Linked DNA regions of Homo sapiens: region 1 is linked to region 2. The links come from fine-mapping of genetic effects on gene expression. Tissue or cell type: spinal cord. Region 2 holds a variant in brackets; the other region holds the start of a gene. All regions are shown on one strand. Distances are between the middles of the regions. Region 1 holds the start of KCNS3 (potassium voltage-gated channel modifier subfamily S member 3). Region 2 overlaps KCNS3 (potassium voltage-gated channel modifier subfamily S member 3).

Region 1 (16,522 bases), 40 kb before region 2:
CAGAGCAAGACTCCGTCTACGGAAAAAAAAAAAAAAATGGCTGCCTATGGATAGTGGGTTGGCCATGCAAGTGTGGAAGAGGGAATAAGCAAAACGAACAAACAAACTAACAAACAAACCAGGAGAGAGGCCTTGTACATGCTAATGATGACAATATGCCGTAACTGAAGAGTATGGTCAAGTTAACCCTCTGCATCCAAGGGAAATAAAAGAAGGAAAGAAAGATGAATAAGTCAGTGCAGCTGACCAACACTCCTCAATATTTCCAGCTGTTCATAAAGAGGAAGAGTGAGGTGCATTCAAGATGAAATGACCTGTGAGTTACTGCTTACAGAGAGTGGGGCGTTCACTGCCCACTGTGCTCATCCAGAAAGACTTTTTGAACCCTTCTCACCACCATATTTTGAAATGGAAGAATTTCCTTCTCATTATTGTGAAAAGAAATGGTGATTTTTTTTCAAAAGAAATTTTAATGGAAAATGAAACAAGACAAAATATGTAGAACAGAAAGACATTCAGAAAAATAGTGTCTAAACACACATTTTCTTTTTTTAAACCCTAAGAATGAGTATTCTAGTCCCCAGGCTCCTGGCTGAGCCTGTGCCTGGATGCCTGGCCTTGGGCTCCCTTCCTTGCCCCAGGCGGGCCTCAGGCCCTGACCTCGTCTCCCACCTCCACTTGAGGAGCACATTCAGGGTGGTTACAGCTGACTCCAGGCCCCTTTTCTTTCAGAGGATAGGGGGCAACTTCCTCACAGATGCAGCCTAGTGATGCCACGTGTGGCCCTCTTGTGTATGATATTTAGTTTAACACAGGCTTTCTGGAACACATGGGAGAACCTGGGTGCCTGTGTTGTGGGGTGATGGGTTTCCACTTGAGCACTTAGAGAACCCTTTGTCTCACGATGATGGACACTCCTATTTCCTTCCCTTCCCCAACCCTGGGTCACACTAGACCTGTCATTCCTCTTTATATCACTAAGAGCCGGGTAGTGAGTTTGCCAGTTATTTCCCACAGGGCTGAAGGAAGGCTCTGTCCTAGCAGCCTTGATTCTGGTAACATAGGGTCTTTCTTTCTTTCTTTCTTTCTTTCTTTCTTTCTTTCTTTCTTTCTTTCTTTCTTTCTTTTCCTTCCTTCCTTCCTTCCTTCCTTCCTTCCTTCCTTCCCTCCCTCCCTCCCTTCCTCTCTCTCCCTCTCTCCCTCCTTCCCTCTCTTGCCTACTCCTCTCTTTCTGTCTCTCTCTCTCTCCCTTCCTCCCTCCTTTCTTCCTTTCTTTCCATTCTTCGTGGGATTCCTTAAACATTTTATTTGAATCTCATTTATAAATATTTTAACTTATAAGAACTAATGAAAACCATCATGAAGACTCAAGAGTGCTATGCCAAAACTGTAACACACTGAAACTCATCAACAGGTTGAATACTTCTGACACAATCCCCCAGTTTGCTCATGCTTTAGAATAAAACTTCAGCTGTGCCTAGCACTTATCAGAACCTCCTCTGGCTTAGAGTTGGGAGCTCTCAGTGGCCTGCACATGGGAGGTGGGAGGGAGTGAACTGACTGCCATTGTCACCTCACCAGACACACAGACTAGGACCTGGTACCTGGGCCAGAAGGTGTGGGCTACTCTCGCCTTCAACATAGGGTATTTTCATAATACAAGGGACTGGGGAACATGAAAAAGAGGGATCTTCAGATGCCAGCACCCAGGTGTGAGGGCGACATCCGAATCCCCACTTTTCAGCAGGCAGAAACTCTACCCTTGAAGATGGATGTGAGTGACAGAAACCACAAATAACAACAGCTGAAATGAGATGCTAGTTTCTTTCTTTCATATAAATGAGGGCAGTCCAGTGCTGTTAAGAGGACCTAGGCCCCTTCTAGCTACTCATCTGACCATCCTTATTATGTGGCTTGTACCTGTGGGTTCAAATGTCTATCCAGATCCAGTGATCTTCTCTGTGCTCCAGAGAGCATGAAGGCAAAAGAGGGAAGGGGAAGGGCACTCCCCTCTTCCTGTGAGGACACTGCCCAGAAGCTGAATGTGCCACTTCCACTGACGTCCCATAGGAAATAAGTCAGGTACATGCTGTCCTCTCACTGCTAGGATGTGTAGATTTTATCCTAGGCAGCAATATCGCTAGGAGGATGGCCAACTGTCCTGGTTTGCCCTGGAATGTAGTGGTTCCTGAAATGCTGGACTTTGAATTTTAAAACTGGGGCAGTTTCAGACAAACTGGGAAGAGCTGGTCACTCTAGTACCCAGTAATACTTGGAGATATTATTACTGAGAAAGCAGAAATGATCATGAGGGTATGCCCAGGATTCTTTGTCATGGGGATACTCTTCATTTGTCTAGTTGGAAATGAAGGCTGTGCCTTAAGTTCCACCCCACAAATGAAGGGCTACTAAAGAGGTGCGAAATGCCCCCAGAGGAACAACCATGAGGATGACATATCTGGTCTTTGCTCCCTCTTGGTTTGCTTTCCTATACCTTCCCCTGTTGTCTTTGTTCATCCATCCATCCAGTTATCTATGCAGGCATCCAATCATCTCCCTTTTCATTCATTTTTTTTTTTTTGAGATAGAGTGTTACTCTGTCACTCAGGCTGGAGTGCAGTGGTGCAATCTTGGCTCACTGCAACCTCCGCCTCCAAGGTTCAAGCGATTCTCAGGCCTCAGGCCCCCGAGTAGCTGGGACTATAGGCACCCGCCACCATGCCTGGCTAATTTTTGTATTTTTAGAAAGATGGGGTTTCACCATGTTGGCCAGGCTAGTCTCGAACTCCTGACCTCAAGTGATCCACCCACCTTGGCCTCCCAAAGTGCTGGGATTACAGGCATGAACCAGCACACCTGGCCACTTTTCATTCTTAAAGTATTTGTTGAGCATCTATAATGTGCTCTTAAGATATTGAGATGAACAACACCACTTAGTTCCTGCCCTCAAGGAACTCACAGTTTAATCCATCCATATAGACAATGAATGATAGTACAGGAGTCTAACTGTAATCGGAGCTTTGTACAAAGTATAATGGGACCCAGTAGAGCAAGCAACTAAATTTGCTTTGCGAGTCAGAGAAAGCCTCAGAGAATGGGTGACATATACTGGATCCTGGAGATTAAGCAGGCATTTTCCGGTGGAGAAGGAAACACTATAGGAACGAGGCACCAGAAAGGCAAGACTCAGATGGCATGCAGTGAGCATAGAGGAGAGATGGGCCACTTCTGTCGGGCTGGAATGTGAGGAAAGTGCAGAGGAGAGGGGAGGGGAGGTGGTGATGAATGAGTAAGGCAGAGAGAAAGGTGTGAAGAGCTTGAAATGTGGTAAAAAATCAAGTTGTGACCAGAGTATGAGCAATCTGGAAGGCCATCCCTGGAAATATTTTCATGGGCTAACTTCTCAGACAGAGCCTTTCCTATACTAGAGTGTTATGAGGACCTGCCAGTGTGATGGAGTAAACACCTTCCTTTCCGTGCCTAGGGTCAGGCACAGGTGTTCTGTGGCACTCACCTTGGGCAATACTCAAGGGCCTTCAGAGGGTGATTCTGAGTACCTGAGGACAGCATTCCTTTGTGCCTGGAGACATAGCCTGTCACAGGGTTTTTTCTTTCTTTAATAATTTATAAAGTGTCTCCTTTTATCTATAGAAACATAAAGCTTTTAGACCTGGCAAGGGCCTTAAAGATGATATAGTCCCAACCCAAATGTAGGGCCCAAGAGGAAATATCACTGAGGTAATCAGGGACAGAGCTGAATCAGAATTCAAGTCTTTGTACTTGAAGATCATAAAGATTTAAGGAATTTTTCTTTTTCTTTTCTTTTTCTTTTTTTTTTAGACAGGGTCTCTCTCTGTCACCCAGGCTGGAGGGCAATGGCACCATCTCTGCTCACTGCAACCTCCACATCCCAGGTTCAAATAATCCTCCTGCCTCAGCCTCCCAACTAGCTGGGACTACAGGCATGCACCACCATGCCTGGATAATTTTTGTATTTGTTATATAGGCAGGGTTTTGCCATATTGCCAAGGCTGGTCTTGAACTCCTGGACTCAAGCAATCTACCCGCCTTGGCCTTCCAAAGTGCTAGGATTACAGATGTGAGCCACTGCACCCGGCCTTAAGAAACTTTTGATATAAAAATAATACCACAGGGCAGTTAGAGTAAGCATACAATAATTTTGTGAAAAGAGCATGATCATTGTAGCAATAATCTGAAATAAAAACATTCTAGCTGATTGAGAACTAAATTTAATTTAATGTAAATTTAGTTCTGAGCTTCCTGGCAGCCAAGCAAAGACAGCGATATGATGGTTTACATGTTTTATTTTTACCTGGCAAAAGGTAGCGTAGAAATAAGGGATTTAGGTTTTGACTAGGATCAGATGAAACTGGGCAGCCTTCAGTAATTCACTTCACAAACATGCAGATCCAACAGAAGTTCCTGGAAATTCAGTCTTCAAGGAGCTTATTGTCTAGTGGAAGACAAACAGTTAAAATCCCATATGGTAGATTCTATGAAAGTGGGAGGCAAAGGCTGCTGAGGGAGTGTGGAAAGGAAACACACAACACACAACCCAGGATGAGAGAGGCGGCTTCCCAGAGGGTCGTGATTATGATGTGATTATCCACTGAATCTCATCCTAAGGGAGAAGGGGTCTGTTGGGCAAAGCAAAGCTTGGTGATGGGGAACTGTGTTCTTAGCTGAGGAGGCACTGCTGTGCATTCAGAGAGTCAAGAAAAAGCATGGTGGGTCTGGGGAGTTGCAGGTGTTTCATGTGCTCAGACTAACTGGAGTGATATTCAGGCAGCTGGGTAGAAAGTGGCAAGTGAGAGGCACACACCAAATAAACGCTGCTCATTATGACTATACCCCTCACTCCCAACCTTCCTGCCAGAGATGAGCACATCTTCATTTTCACCTGCAGACCTGTTCCAATTTAAGAAGCTAATGAGCACTTCCCTTTCCTTCAGGACTAAGGCAAGTACTAATCTAGCTGATTTCTGTCATTTGAACTTTAGTGAGAATAAAAAGTCGGGGACAGGTTTGGCTCTGGGGAGGGAAGGGAAGACATGGATGTGTGATAGGTGGGTAAGAGAGGGAGACCTCCAAACGAGGCCTGGAAGACAGACTGAAATGCATCCCACATTAGTGGCATGTGTCTCCATCCACTCCAGGAGTCCTCTGAAACCACAGAGGAGTGAGCATTATTGTCAACGATGATTAAATGATTGACCCCTCACAGATTAAATGCATGGTTTATCTAGATGTTTCTCTATAGGCACAGTTAATTAAGAGGGAACGGGATGTCATATCGGGAGGCATAAAGACTGGGCAGGAAGTGGGTGTGTGGGGAAAAGGAGGCAGTTAGTTCACAGCATGCCCCCGGTAATGGAGACTGGGGTTGGGGAAGGGGCTACATACCGTGTGTGTGAATTTACCACTTTGCCTAGCTCAACCTTGGTCAACATTCAAGAGTAAACTTTTGGGGAGCAGACCTGCCTCAGGGGTCATCCGATGTGGTCCTTTTTATTATTTCATTGGCTTCACATGATTACCCTGGGAGAGAGGAAATTTCCTTACAGATGACAAAATCAGGGCTGAAAGACGAAGTGGCTCCCTGCAGGGCTCAGCAGGGTAAGAAGTCCTGTCTGTCTCTGTCTCAGATCTGTGGCCCTTCTCTGTGCCCACTCCTACATGCCCACCGTGGAGGCCCACCCCTTCTGTCCTCAGCTCCTGCAGATGCACAGGGGCCCTTACTGGCTCCCACTGTGTGTGCCTTCCCGACTGCTCACATGTTCCGCCCAGACCCCAGGAGAAAGACCTCACTGCCAACTCTTCTGCACTGCAGGTGCCTTCTGCAGTGCTTAGAGATTCTGAACATATTTCCTTCTCAAGTAAACCATGCTGGACTTTTTGGATAAACTTAGTGATTTTAAAATGATTAAATAGGTAACTGCTGGGAGAGATCTGGAAGCATTCTTCTAAGGTGTTGATAAAATGTAAATATATTTTTAGAACAATCTTAGAGCTTATGCTAAAGATGAACTATGTAAGAAAGTTACCTTCTTCAGCCACTTGTAAATAGCAGTGTGGACCAATGCTTTGGATCCTCTTCCACAGGAGAGGAGACAAGATTGGAGGAACCAAAGAACCATGGAATTAGGGACAAATGGCTCAGAACAGTGCTCTGCAGACACATGCATCTGTACTTTGCTTCCCAGAAGCCAAATGAAACTGTTGGAGCTTGGTGGGCTCCAGGCCTCAGGGGGAAGACCACCCTAGGCTTTATCTTTTCCTCTGCCCTTCCTGCCTGCTGTTAGCCTCTCCTCTGGACCAAAACTCCCTTTAAGGGGAAAACCTCCTCTTTGAAGCCCACAAGATACGGTGAGGATTACTGCCTTTTTCTGATTTCCAACGTGGGTTTTTCATTAAGCAAAGAACAATTAGAAAACCCACACATAACATAGGGTATTCAGTAAGTTCAGGAAAGTGTTTTCCACCATCTCTTTGCCCCCATTCCCTCCCCAGCGCTTGGCTCAAGGTCTGGAGCTTGAATCTGCATCGTCTTCCTAGGTGCTTGCCTGAGGTGAGTGGTCAGCGGGTGCTGGCTTGGGGGCAGCTGGCAGGGCGTATGCTGCGGGTAGGAACCCAGGGAACACTGGGCGCCTTAGCTTGGAGCAGCTGGCTCCGAGGAATTGTTCCACGTCTGCACAACTTAAAAATCTGCAGTTTGGGGGCGGGAGGGGGAGCGCGGGGGTGGGTCCCGAAGCGTCCCATTTCTCCTCCTGGCTGTTAACTGAGCGCTCTCGCTCAGTGCAGCGAGGCCAGCGATGCCTTCTGGACCACACGCTGTCCTCGCCGAGGTCCTGGTTTGTTCCTCAACGTCGGCTGAAGGCATCGTCCCCTGACTTCCTCTTCCATTCGTCCTTCCGAAAGGGGACCCGACTGGTTCCTCTTCTACATATGAGGCGCATCTGCTTGGTGCAAATGTCCAAGCACCTCTTCTGACTCGGTGAGTGGAGGAATAAGACAAAGCATCTTGTTCTGCACTGTGCCTGAGTCTTCAGGCAGCGGGACCGATGGCAAACATTGGCAGGAACTGGAGCTATATGTACTCTCCTTCGCACTTTGTTTTAAAACAAGTTTGGGCCTCGCGATTTCCTGAGGAAATCCAGGCAAATTAGCAAAGTGTCGCTTGGGCCGCGACTTTAGAAAGGCGGTTGCCCCAGCCGCCGGGGCCGCGGGGGAGGTCATCTTTTTCCCGCAGGGCCACGGCGCTTCCGGCCCAGGAGGGCGCGCAGGTGGGAGGCGCGGGGCGCGCTCCTGGTCCCACCCGGACAGCGCCTGCCGCTCCGGGGTGACTCTGCACTTGGGCCTGGGCGGGGGCGCGCGGCCGGCAGGGCAGCATCTAGGTCTATGGGTCTGTCCGCCTGTCTGGCGGTCGGAGCCCCGCAGTCCTCAGCCGCCCGCGCCCTCGGCCCGGGGCGCCCGGCTGCGGGCCCGAAGCGAGGGGCTGGCGGAGCTGCGACCAATGGGGCGGCGGCCGAGCGGCGGGCCCCGCCCCGTCCCGTCCGGCCCCGCCCCGCCCGCAGCTCCCGGGAGCCTCGCTCTAGCGGGGCGGGACCGACGGACAGACCGGCCGACGCGGGCCACCCCGCTCTCCTCGCCGCCGCGGCGGCAGGCGCGGGGCCGCGCCGCGAGGCCTGATCCCTGCAGCGCGGGCAGGCGGCGTCGCAGAGCGGAGCTAGCTGGATGCGTCCGGACTCCTGCAGGTACCTGGCTGGCGTCCCCACCTCCCTGCGCGCTCCGGAGACTTCTCCGGGCGACCCTGCAACTTTACCGCGCCTTCCCCCACCTTTTGCTGCCCCAGTCTCCTGTGGTCCAGGTCGCGGGTGCACGACCCCGAGGGTCTACGGCCGCAGAGCACTTTCCGTCCTTCTGGGCGTCTGGCCCGCGGCGCCCGCATCCTCTGGTCCCCAGAGCCCGCCGTCGCTGGAGCCCTAAGGCTCCGCCTGTTGCGTGAACTGCGGGCTGTTGAAGCGGTGGCTGGGTTGATTTGAAAGCCTCGGGGAAGGTATTTAGGATCAGCTTTCGGGGAGTGGGGTGGGCTATGGTCAGGGGGAGGACCACCTGGAGGCGGGAGAATCGATGAGCCGAAGAAAGGCGGCACCTCGCGTAGGGGCATCCCCGGGGCGTTTCCTTGGCCGGGAAGCCGTTCCTTCCCTTCCTCGAGAGGAGGCGCTTTCCTGGCGCTTGTAAATGCTTCCCGGGCCGTCTGCTCCGCCTTCTTTGTCATTCCTCCCCTCCCCTTTGCCCTGCAGCTGTGCTAGGCGCCCCGCGACAGTTGCAGGGAAGAGCGAACCCAGGGCCCTTGCTCTCGTGCAGCGCTGCGCCCTGGGTGGGGACGGCGTGAGGCTTGCAGCGCAGGTGTGGAGTCACTTGCGGACTCTGCGTTTGGATCAGTGGCAGTGGTGGGGAAGGGTCACCCCGGGGTCAGGAACTCCTCTTTTTTTTTTCGCGCCTTTCTGGGTGGCTGCCCGACCTCCTGAGGCACCTTGGCTAGCAAGCGAGCCAGTCTTGCCGGCAGGGGCCGCGGCGAGCCTGGCTGGGCGCCTTTCGCATTGCAGGGCTTGTCCTGCACCCCCAACCCCGCTCTGTCCCTTCTCGTTCATTTGGAGAAAGGAGCACCTTTTGCATTCTTGATGTCTCCCCCCGGTTTTGTCTGGGGAGACCGAGCCGAAAGCTTCACTCGGGTGGCCCGCAGCAGGGGCAGAGGACAGCAAAGAGCTACCTCCACCTGCCAAAATGACCCAGGGGCCCTGGTTTGGTGCCAAGGCGTGAAGTGGGGGGAGGGGCGGTAGGTGTTCCTTACGTTCCTGCCGGAGAGTAGCTTTGTGGTTGGCCCGGAGCCTTCGTTCGGGTTTTTTGTCTTTCACCCTACCCTCTGAAAATACTGGAGCAGATGAGTACAAACAGTTCAGAAGCCTTTCCTGTTTCTTTCCCTGTATTTACTCAAGCGATTTGCGTAACCATTCACTTGGAACTGTGTAAGTCACTCCTAGTTGCCCCCCTTCTTAGACTATTTGCAAATACCTGCCCAGGTAAACAGGAAGCACGCACCTATCTCTTAGCTGAAGGCATATGCCCTCGTGCTTTGTCTTCCCTGCATATCTGGAGCCGAAGAGGTGGCTTTGATTCTCTAGCTGAACTTGGTGTAATGTGCAGGCTCCACTTCTTACCTGGGTGGTGACCTTCTTGAGGAGATTGACTCGTTCAGTATGCATTTCCAACCAGCCCGCCATGGGCCAGGCCCCAGGATGCACTCGGGGACAGACAGCAAATGGATGATATAATTTCTGCACCCAGTCTAGTCTGTTCTTTCTTTCTCACCAGCTTCCCTTCTTCTCTTGTTCTAATATTATGTTTGTCGTTTCTGAACTAGGAATTGTCAATATTGGGATCCGGAGAAGGTCATATGAAGGTGCCATAGAACTCTGAATCCAAAGCATGTTGTGAATATACTAAGGAGACTTGCGGGATCAGTATTAATTGAATCTTTTGTCTGACCCATAATTGCCTGAATAGAGCCATTGATGAATGCAGCTACGCTAAGGTTTTGCTGGTCAAGTGTATGAGGGCAAATTGGGAGGTCAGAAGCAGTCTTTGTTCTGTTCTGAAATATTATAATATTAAAAATCCAAAGCTCTGGAGCTTGAGTTTGCCAGCAAAGCACCAACTGAGTATCATCATCTTCTTTTAAGAAGGAAGGGGGAGAGTGGGAACTGCAGCTCCCTCCTGTCTTCAGTGGGTTTTGCCCTTCACTGTAATTCTTCACAGACGTGCATCCCTCTGTTCTACCACCCATCTCAATCTGCCCTGTGTCTGGCATTTGCCATTGGAATGTGTGTCAGCTTTGAGAGAGTAGGCACCACAGGGTTTTCCTCCTCCTTTTCCTTCTATTTTTTAATAGATAACATTTATTAGCTGCATACTATATATCAGATACTCTGCTAGGCACTTTTCCAGGCATTATCTCATTTAATTCCCATAACAACTGCATGAGGATGTGATGCTTGCTTTCTTCACTGCAGTATTGCTGTGGGAGCCAGCAGTAGATGGAACCCCCCAGGTGCATGTTGAGTCAGATGGGAGGCCAGTGGGAAATGGTGGGCCTGAGGTCTCACTAGGAGGAAGGACGACTCTGCAGGGTATGTTGAAGCAGAGAAGGTGGGTGTGTTTATTGACTCTGCTTATCAGGTGTCAGGAAAGTGCATCTTCCAGAGTGCCACCTGTGTGAAATACCCACAAAGAAACATCATAGAGAAGAGAATAGGATGTGGGGACCCAGTTTCCAGCTGTGATATCTATTTCTTTATGGCTCCTTGACTTGACATGTCATTTTGCTAATCTGGGTCTTGGTCTGTTTAGCTGCACTGACCTAGATCTCTAATATTTGTTGTTACGCTGTACTAGGCACTAAAAGCTAAAAGCTTTTACATGTATGAACTCACTTCATCCTGATGACAATCTTAGGATGGTAGGTTCTATTATCACCGTATTTTACAGGAGGAAAGAGAGACAAACTGAGTAACTTGTACAAGGTCACCCAGCCCGGAAAAGGTGAAGCTAGGATTCTATCCCTTGCAGTCTGACTGCAGAGCCACTGTGAGATTCAGTTTTCCTCATTTATTCCTACAGTTCCAACACTGTTCCCTGTGCTTAGTGGGATCTCGGACTACATTTGTTGAACAGTGACAGAGGGGGCTTACAGTTACCAAGTGACTTTTGGGTCCCATGTCTCAGCCTTAAAAGGAATCTCAAAGACTGCGTTAGCAAAATATTATTTTTGCCTTTGACAAAATGGTCTGCTTTTCGGTGAAATTCTGCCCAGCTGGTTAGGAAAAAAGGAAGATAAACCATAAAGATCATGGGCCAGGGAAACATTATGGTGAGTTTCAGAAAATGTGTTTATCAATATAAGAAATTCAGAAAAACCACAGAACACTTTGTACTCCGACGCAAATTTGTCAAGTAAATCAACCAGTGACCAATTCACAAGTGCTTATTGTATGGGTGCTAAGTGCCCAGTACTACAGGCAATGAAGGTAGGCAGAATCTATGACATGGTCTCTGAGCTTGAACTTATAGTGGATCTGGAGACTCCAGATCAGTGAGACAAGATAGAACAATACAAGATGCTAAATGTTTAAGTCCTGATAAAAATCACAATGACTCGGTCACATTTGTATAACCTATTGTGGTTTGTAGGAACTTTCACATGGGATATCTCATTCCAGTCCTCAGAGCAACTGAGAGTTATAAGCTATAGGTGGGACAGAAGTTAGGAAGCCCATATTGCTGATGAAGAAATTAAGGCAAACTGAGCCTTGAACTTGGACACAGTCAGGGGTCTTCTGACTTTAAGTCCAGCATCTTTCTGCCTCACTTCTCTCTGGAGCTAGAGAGCAGAACAGGAGGGAGTGAGCTATCGAGAGTCCTTGGGGAGTGGGGAACTGAGTTTGAATTTCATCCTGGACCTGGCCTTTGCTTGCTGGTCTTGACTACTGTGGGTGCTTATTGGAGGCAGGGGATGGGGAGTAAGTACAAGCTGGGGAGGAGGAGAAAGAGGAGAAGAGTGTTGTTGTTTTATTGTTTCAGGGGCCTGCTGTTTTGTGAAGCCTGGAGTGAATACTCAATTATCATGAACATAATAACAAGGCTTAAAATGTACAACAAAATGTAGAAACTGATTTAGAATTTTCATCCCTGTTTTTCTTTATCATTTCTCTAGATCATCTTTTGAAACTTTTTAGCATATCTGCACATTATACTTTTTTTTCACAGTTGTTAAGAGGATCAAAATCTACACATTATAAAAGTAAACTCTTTAATAAGCTAAAATAGTTACTAGGCTAGGTTGTGGTATTTTTCTTGTGGGCAAGAGGTCTCATTCTCTTTGGAATCCTGCACAGCCTTGCACTACGATTTGCTTTGAGGAGATACTGTATAAATATTGTCTTCAGTTGCACAAGTATTGAACGATAAAGGCATAAGATCTGCTTTTAGCCAATAATGTTACAGTTAAGCAGTTAATGTTGGCAGCAGCCAGCCTCAGTGAGTTTGGTGAAGTGCCAAATGAATGAAGTATCTTGCTGAGTATTCTACTAATCAGCCATCCGAGGACTTACCAGATGCTCACCAAAGGTGACATAATGATTAACTTATATAGTCACATATATGTATTCTCATTATATATTCAAATCCGTGCATACATTCATTCAACAAGTATTTGAGTACTTACATGATGTTATGTACTATGCTAGGTGCTGGGTATACTGTGGTAAAGGAAACGGTGGGGGGTTGGGGTGGGGTGGGGTGGGGTGAGAAGTGGGAGGGAGACAGGCATTAAACAAACCAATGCAAAATTTAAGTAGTGGTAAGTTCTCTAAAGGACTTCATGGGAGAGAGTAACAAGGGTAGGGAGGCACTAGTTTAGATGAGAGGGTCAGAGAAGACCTTTCTGAGGAAGAGACATTTCATTTTGAGTGATAAAAGGAGTCCATTAAGTGAAGAGTGGGAGAAAGATAATTCCAGGCTGAGGATTCTAAGGCAGGAATGAGCATTGAGCCTCTTTTTGTTCTATGCAGGAACTTCAAGAGAACAAGGGTGGGAACAGCTGGGAGGAGGTTGTAGAAGAGGGCTGGGGTCATCCCATTACTGGGTATATACCCAAAGGATTATAAATCATGCTGCTATAAAGACACCTGCACACGTATGTTTATTGCGGCACTATTCACAATAGCAAAGACTTGGAAACAACCCAAATGTCCAACAATGATAGACTGGATTAAGAAAATGTGGCACGTATACACCGTGGAATACTATGCAGCCATAAAAAAGGATGAGTTTATGTCCTTTGTAGGGACATAGATGAAGCTGGAAACCATCATTCTCAGCAAACTATCGCAAGGACAAAAAACCAAACACTGCATGTTCTCACTCATAGGTGGGAATTGAACAATGAGAACACTTGGACACAGGAAGGGGAACATCACACACCAGGGCCTGTTGTGGGGTGGGGGGAGGGGGGAGGGATAGCATTAGGAGATATACCTAATGTAAATAACGAGTTAGTGGGTGCAGCACACCAACATGGCACATGTATACATATGTAACAAACCTGCACGTTGTGCACATGTACCCTAGAACTTAAAGTATAATTAAAAAAAAAAAAATATATATATATATATATATATATATATATATATATTTAAAAAGAAGAGGGCTGGGGTCAGATCAAGCTGTGCCCTTTAGGTCAAGTTCAAGGTCTTATGGTTTATTCTGAGGGCTGTGAAAAATGGATTTGCAGAAGGTGAGTGTCACAAGCCAATTTAAATTTATACAAGATTGCCTGGGAAGGCTGTGAAGAACAGATAGAAGAATAGACTGAAGAGGTACAAGCATGGGAAGCAGAAGCCTCGTTTGGAGGTGTGTTGTGTGTTGCAGAAGTGGAACCTAAAGTGAGATTGGCCTGGGTTGAAAGATGAATGGAGGTGAGGAAGTGCAGACCATACACATAAAGCTTGGTTGTGAAAGGGAGCAGAGAGACAGGATGGGTGTAGGGGCAGGTTTGTGTCTATGTGGAAGGCAACCTTGGCTGAGGTTAGGGATGTGAGTCCAGCTCGTTGGTAAATTAACAGATATATACCTCTGTGTATAGAGTTATAGCACTTCTAGAACATTAGACATTTGAATCCTATCTCTGGCTTTATCTCAAAATCTAGGTAACTTTAAGCATATCACTTTGAGTACTTCTAGAAGATTAGACATTTGAATCCTAGCTTTGGTTCTGTCGCCAAATCTGGGTAACTGAGCATATTGCTTGTCCTTCCCTGTTGTTTTTTTTTTTTTTTTTTCCTCACTGCCTGGTGATTTTATAATTTTTTTAAAAATGCAGTCTTCCTGCAATGTTCTTTAATAGCATTATTTATATGTGTTAATGTGGGTTATTTTTTATAAATTGAATTAGCAGAACTATGAATGGGGATGTAGGAACATTTGTGGTAGGATTCTAAGCATTTGCTCATTGTTGATCATGGATAAGCTGCTTTCAAATTAGCTTAAATAGAGAGACACTAATAATAAAGTCTAGTGGTGAGGAGACAGTAACCCTTCCAATGTAGATGGGATAAGGACTGATGGAGAGTCCTGGGCATGGTTATGAGCCACTTTTTGTGTTTCAGTGGGACTCCTCCTTACCTGGTCTTCTTCATTGCATGAGACGCTTCCTCTGTACGCATGGATATCTGTTAAAAAGATGATAAGAGAGGTACATCTGGTCTGTTTTCTGAGAACCCATTTGTGTTAGAGTTTTCTAGACAAACAGAACCAATAGGCTGTGCATATGTGTAGAAAGAGATTTATTCTAAGAAATTGGTTCACGCAATTATGGAGACTGGCAAGTCCAAAATTTGCCGGATGGGCCAGCAGGCTGGAAACCCAGGAGAGCCAACACTCCACTTCAAGTTTGGAGGCAGTTGCTATACAGCCTGGAAGAGCTGATGTTACAATGAAGTCCAAAGGCAGGCTGCTAGAAAATTCTTTCCTGTTTGAGGGGGTCCAGGCTTTTTGTTCTGTTCAGGCTTTCAGCTGATTTAATGAAGCCCACCAGCATTATAGAGGGCAGTCTGCTTTACTCAAAGTCTACCAATTTATATGCCAGTCTCTTCCAAAATACCCTCACAGAAACACTGAGAATAATGTTTGACCAAATGTCTGGGCACCCTGTGACCCAGCCAAGTTAACACATAAAATTAGCCATCACATCACATTTAACAGAATATACTGGCCTAAACATCAATAATGACCGTCACAGATAACCTGATGGGGCATTAAAGAAGGATAGAGTATCCAGTGATCAATTTGTAGTTGTAGGGAATGAGAGTATAAATAGGGCCATAGAGCCTGGGCAACAGAGCGAGACTCCATGTCAAAAAAACAAATACAAACAAACAAACAGGGCCATAGAACGGAAAGTTATTCCAAAAATCAGTCAAGTCATTTGCTGCCTCTGGACTTTAGGAATGCTGGCTTAAATCCTGACAAATAATTAGTGTATAGAGATAAAAGAATGCCAGCAGACTAAATTTGGGGCTTCAACATGCTTATATATTTTTTACTTTTATTCTGCTATGCACTGGATTGGCTTTCCTAAGTCCTGATGGACATGCCATGGTGAACCGAAAAGCATTTCCTATGATTTACTTGAGATAAAAATGTAACTGGCCAAAGAGATGGGAGAACTTCATGGTTGAATACTGTTGTTTGTAGATTTGGATTGAGTGGAGATGTTGTAGCAAAGGCATTTCATTATTCTTGTCTTTGAGTTCAGACAAAACACTTCTTGGAAGTATTTTTTTTGTGGGTTTTTAAGATCTGAGTTTTCTAAGTATGGTACCTTCGTGAGGCCACTGATGTAAGACCCCAGTCTTCCCTTGGTGCTCAGATGTTACGAAGATGAGATTCAGCCCTGAGGCTCAGGCTTGAGCTTCCATGACAGAGCTTGTCTCCTCTGGGATGAAAGGGTAAAAAGAAAGGAAAGTACCATGTATGGCAGTGTTCATCTGGGTGTCCCCATCCATCCGTCCGTCCATCCATCCATCCATCCATCCATCCATCCATCCCATTCTTCCACCACCCATTTAAATGTCCATCCATCCATCCATCCATCCATCCATCCATCCATCCACCCACCCACCTACCCACCTTTGCCACAGTGTAAAAAGGTATCAGGGTCCCCATGCCCTCTCATCTTCTCCTTAAATCACAATTCCTACAAAGTAGGCTCTTTTAAGATGTGAACATAGGAGTCTTGTGAAAGTTTATGCAAAACCTGAGAACTTTGTTTTTTAAGCAGGTTCCCCAGACTTGTTGATGTAATTAGAAATTGAATGTCAGCATGGTGCATCTTTTTGGTGATGAGAACCGAATTTTCTTCTCCCAGCCTCTCTAGACTTAAAGCAGCACACGTTGCTTTCTCATGTAATTTTTATTTTATTATTTTTTCTCTTCTATTATTATTATTGTTTTTATTTTTCCATAAGTTATTTGGGTGCAGGTGGTATTTGGTTACATGAGTAAGTTCTTTAGTGGTGATTCGTGAGATTTTGGTGCACATATCACCTGAACAGTATACACTGCACAATATTTGTACTCTTTTAATCCCTCCCCCACTCCCACTCTTCCCCCTGAGTCCCCAAAGTCCATTGTATCATTCTTATGCCTTTGCATCCTCATAGCTTAGCTCCCACATATCAGTGAGAACATACGATGTTTGATTTTTCCATTCCTGAGTTACTTCACTTAGAATGATAGTCTCCAATCTCATTCAGGTCACTTTAAATACTGTTAATTCATTCCTTTTTATGGCTGCGTTGTATTCTATCATATGATCTATCTATCTATCTATCTATCTATCTATCTATCTATCTATCTATCTCTGTATCTATATATATATCAC
Region 2 (16,820 bases):
CATTTTCTGCTCTCTGTCCATACCACGAGCTTTCCTGCCACCATGCTTTTGTATGTGTTCTTTTCTCTCCTTGGAGAAGAGCCTTCTTACCCTTACCTGGCTCCTTTACTTGTTCATACCTGACTCGCTCTTCAAGGATTATCTCCAAATACTACCTATTCATGTAGCTGTCCCCGCTTCCTTATCTCGAGGGACTCTACCTCTTCTGAACTTCCTCAATACCGTCTCTGTACCTTTTCCCATGCCTGACATACTACTGGACCTTGTATTGCCGTTATTTATTTACCCATTTACCCTCCTTTTTGTTCTTCTCAGCTCCTGTAAGCTTTGAGGGCAAGATCCATGTTATCTTTTGTCCTTGGTAGTTCCCAGGATACTGCCTGTCATAAAGCAGCCATGAATGAATAGCATTAGCTCAGGATAGTGGAGGGCTTTGGCTGGGGGCTGGGGATCCTTTCTCATGTGAATCTATAAGTTCATTTGATATCTATCTCATTCCCCTTTTCCTCTGCCCAGATGCTGACTGGAGCTGCTTATGACCTTTTATTTTTCTATGTAGAAATAACTATTTTCATAAATATTTTATAATACCTATTTATTTAAAGTAAGAAATGTACACAATGTTGAGATGTAGAGAGTAGAAAGCAAAATCACTCCAAATTCCATTATCCAGAGACAATGAATTTAACATTTTGGTATATATTCTCATTTACTCTAAAAAGACATATTTTACAAAGATAGGATCATGCTATATATTGCGTCATAATTATTTCTCTTTTGTACTTAGCATATTGTGACTTTTTAATGGTTTTACATGCAGTAGAGCTGTAGTAGCTAAGAGAATGGCTTTGAAGAATTATTGTTTGGATTCGAATCATGGAGTTGTCACTTAATAGCTGTTGACTCCCTAAAATCAGTTAACTTCTCTATTTACCAGTTTCTCCATCTGCAAAACGAATGCAATAAAAACACCACTTGTCTGAGTGCTGCAAGGATTAAATGGATTTAGACATGTAAAAAGCACAGGGCCAGACTTAGTATAAGGAAGCTGTAACTTCTGTAACTTTTATTATTTCAGCATTTTTAATGGCTACAGAGTATTCATTGCATGGCTACCCCCAGTCTATTTAATCATTCCTCTATTGATGGACGTGCAGGCTGTCTTTGACATTTCACTCTTACAAATAATGATGCAGTGAACAACCTTGTACATGCATCTTTCAACGCTTGTCTGATTTATTTCTTCAGGACACATGCCAAAATGTGAAACCCTGGGATTTTGTGATACACATTGCTATGATGTCCTCCAGAAAGGTTTCTTTAAGAAGTTTTCACTGCTATCATTGTATGATACTTTCCTGCTCACTCCAAAGCTGCTTGCTTTCAGTTCCTCTTTATCGGCCTGTGTTAGTGCAGTTGTTTGATGCATTCAAATGGGACAGCCCTAGCCTCTGTCTCCAGCTAGCCATGCGGTAGGGAGATGACTACAAGGTGGATGGAGCCAGTGCAGTTCCTTTCTGTGGCCAGGAGCAGTTGCATGGACCACTCAGAGTGACCCTAGAGCCCTGTCAACACTCAGTGACTGTGTTGTACTTCCTTCTATGAGGTGCACACCCTTCCGCAGGGAAGCGCCTGGTCTGCCTGTCTCTCCTTTCCTTTCTCTAGATTTTCTTGCCAAGGCAACACAGCTGCGTCCCTGCTGCCTCCCCTCCATTCCCCAGGGGGAGGTTGTCTAGAAACATAGAGCAGGAGGAAAGGAAGGTGGTATTTAGTTACCCATGCATCAAGTCTTGGGATTCCTGCAGTTGGTATGGCATTTACTCACTCTGAATGACCAAGAAAAATATAATTTATACTAACCTTTCAAAAATAATTTAGAGACTTTGCTTTAGAAAGCACTTACTGGTTTGTCCCTGAATATATTAGACCCTGAGAAGTTTTCATTTTCTTTTAGGGACAGATTTTTAAAAATCATGTTAATTCAAGGATTTGCCATATTAACTTAAGGTACTTCTTGAAATTTGACAGTTAAATTTGGACAGAGTTAGTAGTGGAGGGATATTCTTAGTCATGCCCTGTCTGAATCAACTGGAAGATGTTTGATTCTGATTGCTTTGGATTATAGGATTTAAATATCAGTACATTTTTTTTCTAGCACACTAAATCCAATTATGGCAGTATGATTATGATATTTTAATTTTATTTAATTAAACACTGGGTGACAGTTTTCAATAGTTAAGCCAGATAGAGGTAGGGTTGGATTTCACCTTTTGTTATTATTCATATAATTTTATTGCTCTCAGATTTTATTAAAAGTAGGTCTGTCGTTGATGTATGGTAGCAAGACTACAAAACTGACATGAATTTGCATTTTTTCCAGGGACACCAATTAGTCTCCACAAGGTTGGAACTTCGGTCAGGAGTGGGCGTATTCAGCAGGCTGAATAGCCTACCTGCAGAAAGCTGCAGCAGGCTATAGATCTGAAACTAGATTAGTGCATATGCACAGTATATCATTCTGGCACTAAAATGTTAGAAAACTTAAGACAGACTCACTAACCTTTAGACTCAAATTGCATGAAGCATGGTTTGAGTTTCCACAAAAGGTTAAACTTGCTTTTATCTTTCTTCATTTTTAAAGTTTTGGTTGTATGACACTGTAAATGCCATGACTGAATTCTAAAAGAACAAGTGTTGGGAGGGTATCCCCAGCCCCTGTCAGCAGATGAAGTATTAGTACAATTTGTCATTCCCAGTCTTCTGACCTTCCAGCTCCCAAACAGGTGCCTGAGGTTCTTTTCCTGTACTTATAGAGCATTGGTTCTTAAGTGGGGATGATTTTGATCTCCAAGGGATATTGGCAGTATCTGGAGACATTTTTGGTTGTCACAGTATTGTGATGGGTGGGTGGTGTACAAGTGGCATCTAGTAGATGAAGGCTAGGGGTGCTGCTAAACACTCTACTGTGAATGGGACAGCCTCCACAAGAAAGAATTACCTGACCCCACAATGTCAATAGTGCCGAGGCTGAGACATCTTGCCGTAGAAGTTTTCAAGGTTAGGATATCTCCAGATAAGCTAGCTGCTGCCAGGAGGGTACTCACAGGTCCCATTTCCCAGGTAAGATTATCACAGGTTGGGTCGGAGTCAGCTATCTCTTAGCCTTGCAACTACAGAATTTCACCTCAGGTGTCCCAGAGCTGATCAAACTGTAGGAGGTTGACTTGCATTGAAACTCACAGGAAATTGCATAAATACACCTCTTCCTGTCTTACTAAGTTCCATTACAGTCATAGACAGAACTAGCAGACAGAGTAGACACTTGTGTTGGCCGCATAGCTCGTTTGCTCCTCATAGCAAGGTGTGTGGGAACCCAGATCAGCAGGAGGCACCTCAGGGAGCCTGGAGTCAGAACAAAGGGAAGTCTTTGGGGATTATACAGATACCTGAAACTCCGAGGTCTTGACATTCAAAACCCCACTCTTGAGATGTCCCACCATTTGGGTTGGACATGCTGAGTCTTCAGGTTAAGACTCTTCTGTTTTCACCACTGCTGGGATTGGTCGTGGGAACCAGCCTCAGTCTTTCACACTTTCCTTCTCTGCTGCTACTACTTACCAGCTGCCTTTCATTATCCACATTTATTCTTTTCATTAATTTACTCTTTAGTCTTGTTGGCTCAGGGAAGAGGAATTGGTTCAAAAAATGTGTCATGCACTACCCTGTGACAGCGATAATTAATATGAAGATTGATATTAGGACACTGTCCCTAACTGGAGGCTTTCTCAGTCTAGAGGGTGGCACTGATGTGACAACATTTCAGAAGATTGTGGGCAGGACAGTGATGGGGCCACACAGGATTCTGTGCAAGCACAGAGGACACAGACCTACGGTGCACTGTCACTTGGAGTGTCTGCTTTGATCTATCAGGCACTGATTTTGTAGTTTTTGGAGGGCAACCTTACTCCTATGATTCTGAGACCTGGGAGAATGGTGCAGGGAGTCATTCTCACTCATGTGGACTGTCTGCTGTCCATTTGCTTTTCCTTGGGTTCTGTTCCAAGATTGGGTGTCAGGAGTCTGGAAGATGAAAGAGTCCAATATGCCACTTAGTCATTACCTTTTCCCTCTCAATAATGGAGGCAGTCATTTGTTCACTTTTGAATGCTGTAGTCAACCCACCAGGAAATGCAGCCAGCCTGGAGGGAAGTAAAAGGATGATGCAGAGAGTTTTGTGAAGAAAGGAGGGAATTCTGCAGAGGGTGGCAATATTTGAGTGAGCTTGATGTGTTTTCCAGGATCGGGCTGAATCACTCAGCAAAGTCAGAAACCTGTTAAGTGCTAAGTCACAAACAATGCTCTCTTCTTTTGAACAGGCCAACACTGATCGGGCTGGTAGGAACATAGAGAAATGGAAACGCTGGATGGGATTGTTAGGCAGGAATGGGAGAATGGGAGGATATGTTGAATGGACACATTTTTCTTCCCCAAAGCCTACTGGCTTGGGTCATGTTCTGCTCACTCCCCCCAATCCCTGCTTGACCTTCCCCAACAACTAAGAGGGATCTTGATTTTCCACACTAATTGAACTCAGGCAGATCTACCTGAGTTTAACTCCTGGCTGTGGTGCACCTTAGGTGTAGGACTTTGGACAAATCACTTCTCTGAGCCTCAATGTCCCCCATATAAAATGGGGATAATACCACTTATAATGGCTGAGGGCAGAGGAGATGTGTGTAAAAATCCTAAAAAGGTGCTTAGCTTCTTGTGGGTCTCAGAAGATGCTAGTTATAATTTTATGTTGAGAAGTCACACTTAGAATGTGAATGCTCTTAGAGAGGTGCTAATTTACATAAATTCATAACAAGAGATATTGTCTGGTATTACATCTTGTCTGAAAATCCAGTTTTTTTGGATAGGAATCATGGTGATGGAAAATGGGGCAAGGCACAGGAATTCTGAGTTTTGTGGGGAGGGAGAGAGAAAGGGACAGCCTGGGATGTCATTTATTCATTAGACATAGACTAAAGGCCCATTACATACCAGTGCTATAAAAAGGATACACTTGGCTAACCTCTCAGTCTGTCTGTGGACCAGCCCTGACCTTTCTGTGGTAAGCCAGTGCAATGAACTTTAGGCGGTGCTTGGGGATACTTAGAAATGCTGCATAGCCTAAATATTTGGTTATTTTTTCTTTAGTAATTAATATAGTGATTTATTAATTACCTCTCAGCCAGATTAATCCTACCTTCCCTTAAAGTGTGCTACAGTTGGAAAGGCATCTGATAGGGAAAGGAAAACTATGTGTGTGCTATATCCTTTTACCAAGGTGCAGCAGCAGTTCTGTGTTTCATTGGAATGCAGAGAACTGAGGCTGACCCAAGGACATGCCACTGAGAGGCCATGAAGGAGGAAGAGGGAGAAAGAAGGAGGAGGAGGAAGGGGAGGAGGAGGAAAGCATGGAGGAGGAAGGAGGAGGAGTTTAGCACCTGAATTGATTTTACTTACCCTGTTGAGATTTCTCTACCTCCTCTGCTAAGTGTTCCATCTTATAAGTTCAGTTTGGGTGGAGCTGCATTTGGCTTCTGGATCTTTCTTCAGTATAATCTCTGTTGGAGGTGGGAATTTACCCCTCTGCAAAGTCCAGATGTGCTGAAGGATTGCTCTGCTGTTGCTGGGACAACTTGGAAACTGTGTTCCTGCTTCATTCCCCCTCCATTGCCCCTTGATGTTGTTAGGATGCTATTCACTTGTTTATTTGGTTTTGGGCCTGAGAGCTCTTGAGGGACTGGGGGCAGGCACTGCATCTGGTTTATAATCCCAGTGCCTAAGATAATGCCCAGCAGATCATAAACCACAGTGAATGTTTGTTTAATCACTGGCCTAGCCAGAGGCACTTTTTTTTTTTTTTATCAGAATCAATATTTTCTTCTTCTTCTTTTTTTTCCCTCCCCCTTTTGGACCTGGTGTGGATTGAAAAACATGAAAATCAATGGATGGATGCTTAGAAGCTAGTACCAATGTATGGGAATGCATCAGCATGAGGCAAGGCTTACCTGGGTGGAAACTGGATTTTTTTTGCCTTTTAAAATTTATTCAGAGAGAGAAACTGAAATTTGGCTTTTTATTTGTTGTGACAGAAACTTAAAACATCCCCCCAACACACACTTCATATACATAACCACACACATAAACTGTGATTGCACCTGTGTCATTTCTGATCTGTGAAATATAATAATGGGCAAATAAAGCAAAATTGAATTTGGCCAGCCTTTGAAATCTATTGATTTCAAATTAGAGCAGCAGTGTTAATTCTATTATAGCAGTAATACCCAGAAGGTAGATTTTGAAATGGATTAGAATGCGTTCATTTAGAAGCTTACAAGTATATCTCGATGAATTAGCTGGGAGAATAACACTTCTATAAGAAACCATGTGGGAGTAGGTAACTGCAGCCCTAATTCTAGTGCCTGGTTTTATCTTTAGATGTTTTAGTGGCCTCTGTCAGTAGAGGAATCCTAAGACTTTCACTACTGTTGAGTTCTGAGGATCCTTAAACCTAGCACATGTCCAATGGCAGTGATGGTTCCACAGGGGGAAGAGACCACCCCCCACTTGCTGAGAATTAGGTGGGGCTTTCAGATTTGAGTCTCATCAGCAAAGTGCCCAGAGTGTTGATCCTGAGGTAGAATGTCTTGGGTGTATTTCTTCCTTGCAGTTACAGCTTGGCTGATGGTTTTTTCTGCAGGTGAGAGTGATTTTCCAGTGATTGCTTTGGCCTGTACAACCAGAGAACAGGATTCTTCCCTTCTTTTTGGCCACCAAATGCCTATGTGCACCACACATTCCAGTGTGCTGAGAAGGGCAGAGCTTCTTGGATGATGATGGACGTCCCACCGGGCAGGATGAAGGCAGAGCGTGTGGCATCTCCACCTCAAGGGTAAGAGTTGCCATTCTATCTTATTTTCTCAAGCACCCATTATTTATCAAAGGAGGATGAGAATGAGCGTTACAGTGTAGTGAGAAAGATGAAAGTTAGACACTTCTGATGGTCAAATCCACTGGGCAGTTGGGACAGATGACTATGGGAAGAAAAGTGTTGGTCTCAAAGGATTAGATTGGAGTTATATTAAGGGACACCACTGGCCAACTTTAGAAAATGCTGTGGTTCACATTTTCTCCCTCTCCCTTTTTTGACATTTATAGTTCAGACTTGAGAGAATGACACTACTGTTATTGTAACTAGGTTCCATTTGTGTTCATGTTAGCCAGTCTGGCTTAAAATGTGTGTTGTGGACTGGAATTGGTCAGAGTCTGGCTCAGGTCACAGACTGGGTAGCTCATCAGATGTACCTGGGCCAGAGGCACATCTTTGTTTGAGCCACATCATGCTTCAAACATGTTGGATCAATTCTAACTAAACTTGAGATATTCCACATAAGGATCAGGGTTTCCAGGTTCTCCTGGGAAGACGGAATGATATGTCTATACTGGGCCTCTGTTCCTAAAAAGGATTCTAGTGCTGAGTAGCCTCTGCCTCTTAGACAAGTGGGGACAGTTCACCACCATCCCCAACCATCTCATTTGTTTGACTTGTTTGGTCACCGGAGGTATTTAATTTTGCCATGCCTGTTCTAGATCATTCTGCTAGCTCTTTGACAAAAGTAGTAATAGCCTTTGTTAATTCCTCCAGATAAAAGCAAGTATCTTTTACTAGATT[G/A]TGGGCAGCACTTAGCATAAGGGGCTATAGCTGTAAGAGGATAATACATGGTCCCTTCCACAGCGAAGCTTGGAGTCTAGAGTGAGCAACAATCAGACTTGTGGGGAATAAGGAGAATTGTAGATAACATCATAATGCCTTGTGATATGTGCTAAAATCAAGGTGTACACAAATGGGCTATGGGAGAGGGTAGAGAAGAGAGAACCATTAATTTGGCCTGGGCCCAAATTCTCCAAAACTCCCTCCCCTGGGCAGCAGAGCTTTCCCATGACAGACCTCTGTATGTGCTTGATTCCAAGCAACCTGGCTCAGCTGGAGATGTGATGGAGTATTTACAGCAGGGCTAGGGGCCCCTCTTGTGGTAAAGTCCAGGTTTTTCCTGTTTCTGTTTGAAAAGCTATCATCTACGATTCTTTGCTTTTTACAAAGAGGACAGCTTTCTGGTTGTTTGGCTCACTAAATCACTCAGCCTTCTGAGCAGCTCTCTGCTTGGAGATGAGCTGTGTGAATTACAGAGATCCCTGGAGTTTCCAGAGAGTAGCAGTCACACTAAATACAGATCCAGAGGGAGTGAGTACAACTTTAATGTGATTGTACTAGTTGGTGGGAGTAAGAGAAGGGAAGGGAATAGGGGAAGGAAGTGGGGGAAGGTAGAAATACCATTATATCAGTCTTTTATTTTTGGAACACAGTTTTACATGTGGCTTGTGCTTTATGTTTTCAAAAGACTTTTACATTTGTTATTTTATCCTCAAGGTGGGTTTATAAACTCCTTCTATAGATGAAGACTTCACCTGCCCAAGGTCATGCAGATAAGAAGAGGCAGCTCAGACACAAGTTTTCAGAATCCTAGTCTTTCCCTCTTTTTTGCTAGTTGATGCTGATAATTCAGCATGAATAAGAGGACATGCTGTTTTTGTTTTGTTAAGTTCAACATTGAAACGTTGCATTCAGTTTATGAATGCTCTGGAATAGAGCACCCTGGGACCCTGCAAATTGTATGGACCTGTGTCATTCATGTGTTGTCCAACTGTGGCCCATGCTGTCAGAACATGTCCAGCGCAGAACAGACCTGGCAGGGAGTTTTCTTGCCTGACTGTTTGGCCGGTGGGATTCACGCTTTACAGCAAGCCTTCCTCAGTGGACTGGGCTGCACCACTTGGAAAGCTACTGGAGGTGTTGGCTCCATGTAGGATCCTCGCCATGCTCAGACAATGCTGTAAGAGAAGACTCTTACCAGGGAGGCACCTGGTAGGAGGTTGGTAAGGAGGAGACATGGGTATGGATTGAGTTTAGGTTTCCAATTCTGTTTACGTTTGCTTGGTTTTTCCATTTTGTATATCCCCACATGGCATGACCAGAAATTGAATTTAGCATGACCTACTCTTTAAAAAAATCAAAATGAGCTTTCTTTTTAAATTTAATAGAATAAAAGAAAACTCTTAGAAGAATGTTCCAAAAAGAAGGCAGTGTTAAATGCTGAAAATGGTGTATTTTTTTCTTTGATGAAAAAGGATTAATGTAGATTTTTGGACATCTACAAAACAAGAAGGAAAAACAAATCTGGGTTTTTATTTACTTTTATGAAATTGATACCAAAAAGCAGTTCTGTCCAGTAAGACAAATTGGCTTGTATTATAATACTTTCATTACTTTTCTGAGCAAAGCAGGTGCATTATCAGAGACAGCCATGAGCTTGTGTATATGTGTATGAGTCAGCCTTGAAAAGACACAATTTTGAGAATATTTTCTTAGGTGAGTTTGAGAGCATGAAGCAACAAGAGCAGGAAGTGGACCAAGAGGAGGCGAATAAAAGGTTAATGGCTTTGAAAAAGCTTTACAGGGTGCCAGTTGGAGACAACTGAATCAATGGTAGTTTTCATTTTACGCTGCCAGGGAGTTTCTTGGATTTTTGACATATTCTTCTTCTTTTCAATCTTATAAACACCAAGAGGGACAAGGTGGTCAAATACTGTATATATAGTGTTCTCACCATGAGTGATGTGGGTTGATAGTAGGGAGGAGAATCAATACAGTGAAGCTAAGTTTAGCTTTAAGAAGAGAATGAAAATAGCAGTTGGGTCTTCTACTTTGTGGCCAATGCCACTGTACCCTCAGATGTGCCTGATTTTAGACCCCATGTGTCTTCAGCATGTGAATGTCAATCTCCTTACAGTATGGCTGACATAATATGCAAATGAGAACATCAGCCAGTCTCTACCTCCTCCCACTTAAAAAAATAAACTTTAAATACTCATATTTGAGGCATTGTGGAAAGAGTCTGCCGCATAAAAGGTGGACAACGTTGGGCAAATTCTGAGCCTCAGATGTCCCCATTTGCAACACGGGAGTCTAAGGTCTATGACTTAGGGCTGTTAGAGAATTAAAGACAATGATTCATTCATTCAGTTACATGTACTCATTGCCTGCTAGTGCCTATGTACTGCACCAGTTGTTGAGAATAAAAGAGTGAATAATAGTGTATATGAAAGCACTTACCACAGTGCATAGCCTGAAAAAAGATGCTTAGCACATTTTTCTTAAAACATTTTTAATGGAGAATTTTAACATGTACAAAAATAAAATAATACATTAAACTCTTTTGTGCCTATCCATGACCCGCTGCAACAGTGATTAACTCATAGCCATCTTGTATGATCAGAGCTCCTGCCTTTCCATGTATTATTATGAAATCAATCCCCAATGTTGTGTAATTTTATCAATAAATATTTTAGTATGTATTTCCAAAAGATAAGGGTTTTCTTTTAAGAACATAATTATATTACTATTGGGACACTGAAAAATTAACAATGATTTTTTTTATAATATCAAGTATCTAGTTGGTTTTTGTACTAGTTCATTCTCACATTGCTATAAAGAACTACGTGAGACTGAATAATTTATAAGGGAAAGAGGTTTAATTGATTAAGAGTTCCGCATGGCTGGGAAAGCCTCAGGAAACTTAAAATCATGGCAGAAGGCAAAGGGGAAGCAAGCACATCTTACCATAGTGAAGCAGGAGAGCGAGAGAGAGTGAAGTGGGAGATGCTACACATTTTCAAACAACCAGATCTTGTGAGAGCTCACTAACAATCATGAAAAAAGCAAGGGGAAGTCTGCCCCCATGATTCAATCACCTCCCACCAGGCCCCTCCCCTGACACTTGGGGATTACAATTTGACGTGAGATTTGGGTGGGGACACAGAGCCAGACCATATCAGTTTTCAAATGTCCCTGATTTTCATATATATGTGTGTGTGTGTGTATATATATATATATATATATATATATATATATATATATATATAAATACATATACATATATTAAGCATTTGGCTGGTTAGAATCAGGATCTGTACAAAGTCTGTACACTGGCTTTGTTTGATATGCCTCTTATTTGATCTGTGTCATTTGTCCTGTATGGTTTCCCAGTCTTGATTTTGCTGATTGCACCCCTGTGGTGTTATTGACCATATTCCTCTAAAATATTTATTTTGTTCAGTAAAATCTAGTTATTTTATTATATTAGGCTTGATTAGTGGGTTCAAATATTGTAACTCTGATCTCTGTTATGAAATTCCCCATCAGCTTTTTATCCGGATTTTATCAGCCATTGATTATCATTGCCTAGATCTATTATTTTATTATGAGATTTGAGTTCTATTATTTCTTTTTTTACTTATTAGCTGGAATCCCTATTTATTCACTTATTTTTATTATAATTTTAAAAAATGATAAATAGAAATAGAGTCTCACTGTGTTGTCAAGGCTGGTCTCAAACTCCTGGGCTCAAGTGATCCTCCTGCCTTGGCCACCCAAAGTGCTGGGATGGAATCCCTTTTTAAATGACAGTATTATTGAGATATGCTTTGAATACAGCAAAATCTACCTTTTTAAAAATGGGTTTAATGCAGTGGTTCTTGGTATATTCATGACTGTACAACTTTCTAATTCCAAGACATATTTATCATCCTCAAAGGAAACCCAAATCCATTAATAGTACCCATCTCCCCTCCCCCCAGCCCCCAGCAACCACTAATCTACTTTCTGTTTCTATAGTTTTGACTATTATGGATATTTCATATAAATGGAATAATACAATATATGATCTTTTATTGTCTTTTTTTAAGTAGACCTTTTTCATTAGCATAAGTTTTCAAAGTTGATCCAGGTTGTAGTCTGTCAGAACTTCATTCCTTGATGGACATTTAGATTATCTCCCCTTTTTCGCTATTATGAATAATGCTGCTACGAACATTACATACAGTTTTTGTTTGAACATATGTTTTCAGTTCTCTTGGGACTATACCTAGGAATGGAATTGCTGGGTCATATGGTAAACCTGTTTAACTTTTTGAGGAATGGGCTTAAACTGCTTTCTCAAGTGGCTGTACTATTTTACATTGCTTACAATGACACACAAGGGTTCCACTTTCTCCACATCCCTGCCAACACCTGATGTATCATAATACAACATTTGCATTATTATTACTTTTTGACTATAGCCATCATACTGGTATGAAGTGGTGTCTCATTGTAATTTTGATTTGCATTTTCCTAATGTCTAATGATGTTGAGCATCTTTTCAAGTACCTTTTGGCCATTTATATGTTTTCATAGAAATGTCTATCAAAATTATTTGCCCATTTTAAAGGAGTTTATTTGTCTTTTTATTATTGAGTTGTAAGAGTTCTTTATTCTGGATACTATATCCTTATCAGATATATGATTTGCAAATATTTTCTTCTATTTTGTGAGTTGTCTTCATTTTCTTGATACTTGTCCTTTGAATTGATAGTGTCCTTTGAAGTGCATTTTACATTTTGATAAAGTCAATTTAACTATTTTTTCTTTATTTTTCTGTAATTTTAGTGTTATAGCTAAGAAGCCATTCCCTAACTCAAGGTCATGAAAATTTATGTTAATTTTTTTTCTAAGAGTTTTATAATTTTAACACCTACATTCAGGCCTTTGATGTATTTAAAGTTAATTTTTGTATATAGTGTGGGATACATATCCAATTTAGATTTTTTTGCATGTGGCTATCCAGCTGTTCCAATACTATTTATCGAAAAGACTCTTCTTACCCCTGTTGAATTGTCTTGACACACTTGTCAAAAATCAATCAAAAAGCCCATATGGGCTTATTTTTCAGTTTATTGATTGATTTTTGACAAGTGTGTCAAGAATCAATTTGTCAATTTCTGAAGTTTTAGAATTTTGGAATCAATTTGTCAATTTCTGAAAAAAGGCAGCTAGGATTTTTATAGGAATTGTATTTAATCTATGAATTAATTTGGAGGGTATTGCCATTTAACAATAATAAATCTTTCAATCCGTGAACATTGGGTGTCTTTCTATTCATTTATTTCTTCCATAATTTTTTCAACAACATTGTGTAGTTTTCATTTTACAGGTTTATGCCACTTTTGTTAAATTTATTTCTAAATATTTTATTTTTCTGGATGCTATTGAAAATATAATTGTTTTCTTAATTTCATATTTGTATTATTGCTAGTATATAGAGATACAGTTTTTTTGTATATCAATCTAGTATCCTGCAAAATTGCTGAACTTATTTATTAGTTCTAATTTTTTTGTATATCTATTCCATAGGATTTTCTATATACAAGATCATGTCATCTGCAAATAGAAGTAGGTTAACTTTTCCTTTTCAGTCTGGATGCATTTTCTTTCTTTTCTTTGCCTAATTTCCCTGACTAGAACTTCCAGTACAATGTTGAATAAAAGTGGTGGGATTGGACATTCATGTTTTGTTCCTGATCTTAAGAGAAATGCTTTTAGTCTTTTTTCATTAAATATGTTTTTAGCTGTGGGTTTTTCATAGATGCTCTTTATCAAATTGGAGAAATTCTGTTCTATTCTTAGTTTTTGAGTTTTTGTTTTTAATCATGAAAGAGTGCTAGATTTTTCAAATGCTTTTTCTGCATCTTTTGAGATGATAATGTCATTTTCATTATTTCTTTAGTATTTATATTACCTTGATTGATTTACACGTTAAGTTAACCTTAAATTCCTGAGATAAATCCCACTACTCATGGTAATATAATTCTTTTTATATGTTGCTGGATTTGGTTTGCTGATGTTTTGTTGAGGATTTATTCATCTGTATTCATAAGGGATGCTCCCTGTAGTTTTCTTGTGATGTCTTTTTCTAGTTTTGGTATTAGGAGAATACTAGCTTCATAGAAGGAGCTGGGAAGTATGCCTTTCTCTTCTAATTTTTGGGAGGGTTTGTGGAAGATTGGTGGTGATTGTGGTAAAATTCACCAGCAAAGCTATCTGTACATGAGCTTTCCATATGAAAATTTTTAAAATTGCAAATTCTGTATCTTTACTTGTTAATAAATAGGTTTATTCAGATTTCCTTTTTCTTCTTGAGTTAGTTTGTGTAGATCATCTCTTTCTAGTGTAAACTAAAAATAAAATTCTAAGCCCTCTTGACTATCTGAATGGACCCCTCCTCTAGGCCAACGTCATTCCCAAATTAACCTGAAAAATGAGTTCAGACCATGATGAGAAGGAGAGGTAAGACATGCTTCATTATACCCTCCTCTTTTTTGGAATTCAGGAAAAGCTTACCAGCGTCAACATCAACATGAACCTTAGGACTGATAGTGCAGTCTCTTTAATTCTGATAAGAAACATTTACTGTCTATTCTCTCTGAAGTTGCTATCTGGAGGCTTCATCTGCATGATAAAACCTTGGTCTTCACAACTGCTTATCTTAACCCAGACATTCCTATTGATTCTAAGTCTTTAGACAATGTATTAATCTGTTTTCACGCTGCTATAAAGACATACCCGACTGGGTAATTTAGAAAGAAAAGAGATTTAATTGACTCACAGTTCCGCAGGGCTAGGGGGTCTCAGGAAACTTACAATCATGGTGGAAGGGGAAGAGGCACGTCTTACATGGTGGCAGGCAAGAGAGAGTGGCGAGAGAAGGGAAAAGAGCTTTTTATCAACCATCAGACCTTGTGAGAACTCACTCACTATCATGAGAACAGCGTGGGGGAAACTGCCCCCATGATCCAGTTACCTCTTACCAGGTCGCTCCCTTGACACGTGGGGATTACAATTCAACATGAGATTTGGGTGGGGACACAAAGCCAGACCATATCATTCTACCTCTGGCCCCTCCCAAATCTCATGTCCTCATGTTTTAAAACCAATCATGCCTTCCCAACAGTCACCCAAAGTCTTAACTCATTTCAACATTAATTCAAAAGTCCAAGTCCAAAGTTTCATCCGAGACAAGGCAAGTCCCTTCTACCTAGGAGCCTCTAAAATCAAAAGCAAATTAGTTACTACCAAGATACAATGGGGGTACAGGCATTGGATAAATGCTTCCATTCCAAATGGGAGAAATAGGCCAAAGCAAAGGATTGTTTTGGCCCCCAAACAAATTGGCCCCAAAGGGGCAAGTCTGAAACCCATCAGGGGAGCCATTAAGTCTTAAAGCTCCTAAATGATCTCCTTTTACTCCATGCCTCACATCCAGGTCACAGTGATGCAAGAAGTGGGCTCCCATGGTCTTGGGCAGCTCCACCCCTATGGCTTTGCAAGGTACAGCCCTCCTCCCAGCTGCTTTCATGGACTGGTGTTGAGTGTCTGTGGCTTTTCCAGGTGCTCAGTGCAAGCTGTCAGTGGATCTACCATTCTGGGGTCAGGAGGACAGTGGGTGTCTCTTCTCACAGCTCCACTTGGCAGTGCCCCAATGGGGACTCTGCGTGGGATTCTAACCCCACATTTCCTTTCTGCACTGCCCTAGCAGAGGTTCTCCATGAGGGCTCTGCCCCTGTAGCAAACTTCTGCCTGGACTTCCAGGCATTTCCATACATCCTCTGAAATCTAGGTAGAGGTTCCCAAACCTCAGTTCTTCTGTCCACTTGCAGGCCCAAGACCACATGGAAGTCATCAAGGATTGGGGCTTGCGCCATCTGAAGCCATGGCCCAAGCTGTACCATGGCCCCTTATAGCCATGACTGGAGCTGAAATGTCTGGGATGCTGGGTGCCATGTTGCAAGGCTGCACAGAGCAGCGGGGCCCTAGGCCTAGCCCATAAAAACTTTTTTCCTCCAGGCTTCTAGGCCTGTGGTGAAAGGGGCTGCTGCCAAGACCTCTGATATGCCCTGGAGAAATTTTCCCCATTGTCTTGGCAGTTAACATTCAGCTCCTGGTTACTTATGCAAATTTCTGCAGCCAGCTTGAATTTCTCCTCAGAAAATGGGTTTTTCTTTTCTATCACATCATCGGGCTCCAAATTTCCCAAACCTTTATGCTCTGCTTCCCTTTTAAACAAAAATTCCAATTTCAAACGATCTTTTGTGAATGCATAAAACAGAATGCTTTTAAGAGCACCTAGGTCACATCTTGGACACTTTGTTGCTTAGAAATTTCTTCCACCAGATACCCTAAATCATCTCTCTCAAGTTCAAAGTTCTACAGATCTCTACAGCAGGGGGAAAATGCCACCAGTCTCTTTGCTAAAGCATAGCAAGAATGAGTGTTTGTTCCAGGTCCCAATCAGTTTTTCATCTCCATCTGAGACCACTTCAGCCTGGGCTCATTGTCCATATCACTACCAGCATTTTGGCCAAAACCACTCAACAAGTCTCTGGGAAGTTCCAAACTTTTCCACATCTTCCTGTCTTCTTTGGAATCCTCCAAACTGTTCCAGCCTCTGCCTGTTACCCAGTTCCAAAGTTGCTTCCACATTTTGGGGTATCTTTATAGCAGTACCCCACTCTCTGTGGTGCCAATTTATAGTATTAGTCAATTTCCATACTGCTATAAAGACATACACAAGACTGTGTAATTTATAAAGAAAATATGTTTAATTGACTCACAGTTCTGCAGAGCTGAGGAAGCCTCAGGAAACTTACAATCCTGATAGAAGGGGAACAGGCATGTCTTACATGGTGGCAGATGAGAGATGAGCAAAGGGGGAAGAGCCCCTAATAAAACCATCAAATCTTGTGAGAACTCATTCACTATTACAAGAACAGCATGGGGAAACCACCCCCATGATCCAATCACCTCCCACCAGTTCTCTTTCTTGACACTTGGGCATCAC

Evidence for each region.
Region 1: it holds the start of KCNS3, and the variant in region 2 is fine-mapped to the expression of KCNS3 in spinal cord (GTEx, PIP 0.98).

Annotation. Positions count from the first base shown.
Region 1 is chr2:17,871,032-17,887,553 of GRCh38, forward strand. It overlaps KCNS3 (potassium voltage-gated channel modifier subfamily S member 3), which reads left to right and starts at 7,636. Exons shown (of 3, transcript NM_002252.5): 1 at 7,636-7,775. LOC124907737 (a long non-coding RNA gene) reads right to left here and starts at 5,531. Exons shown (of 2, transcript XR_007086226.1): 1 at 4,334-5,531. RefSeq lists silencers at 7,247-7,406, 7,417-7,616, 7,707-7,756.
Region 2 is chr2:17,910,932-17,927,751 of GRCh38, forward strand. KCNS3 (potassium voltage-gated channel modifier subfamily S member 3) reads left to right here. Exons shown (of 3, transcript NM_002252.5): 2 at 6,749-6,940. Among named protein-coding and RNA genes, the nearest start is that of KCNS3, 41 kb to the left of the region's middle. The variant G/A (reference allele first, on the strand shown) is at 7,721.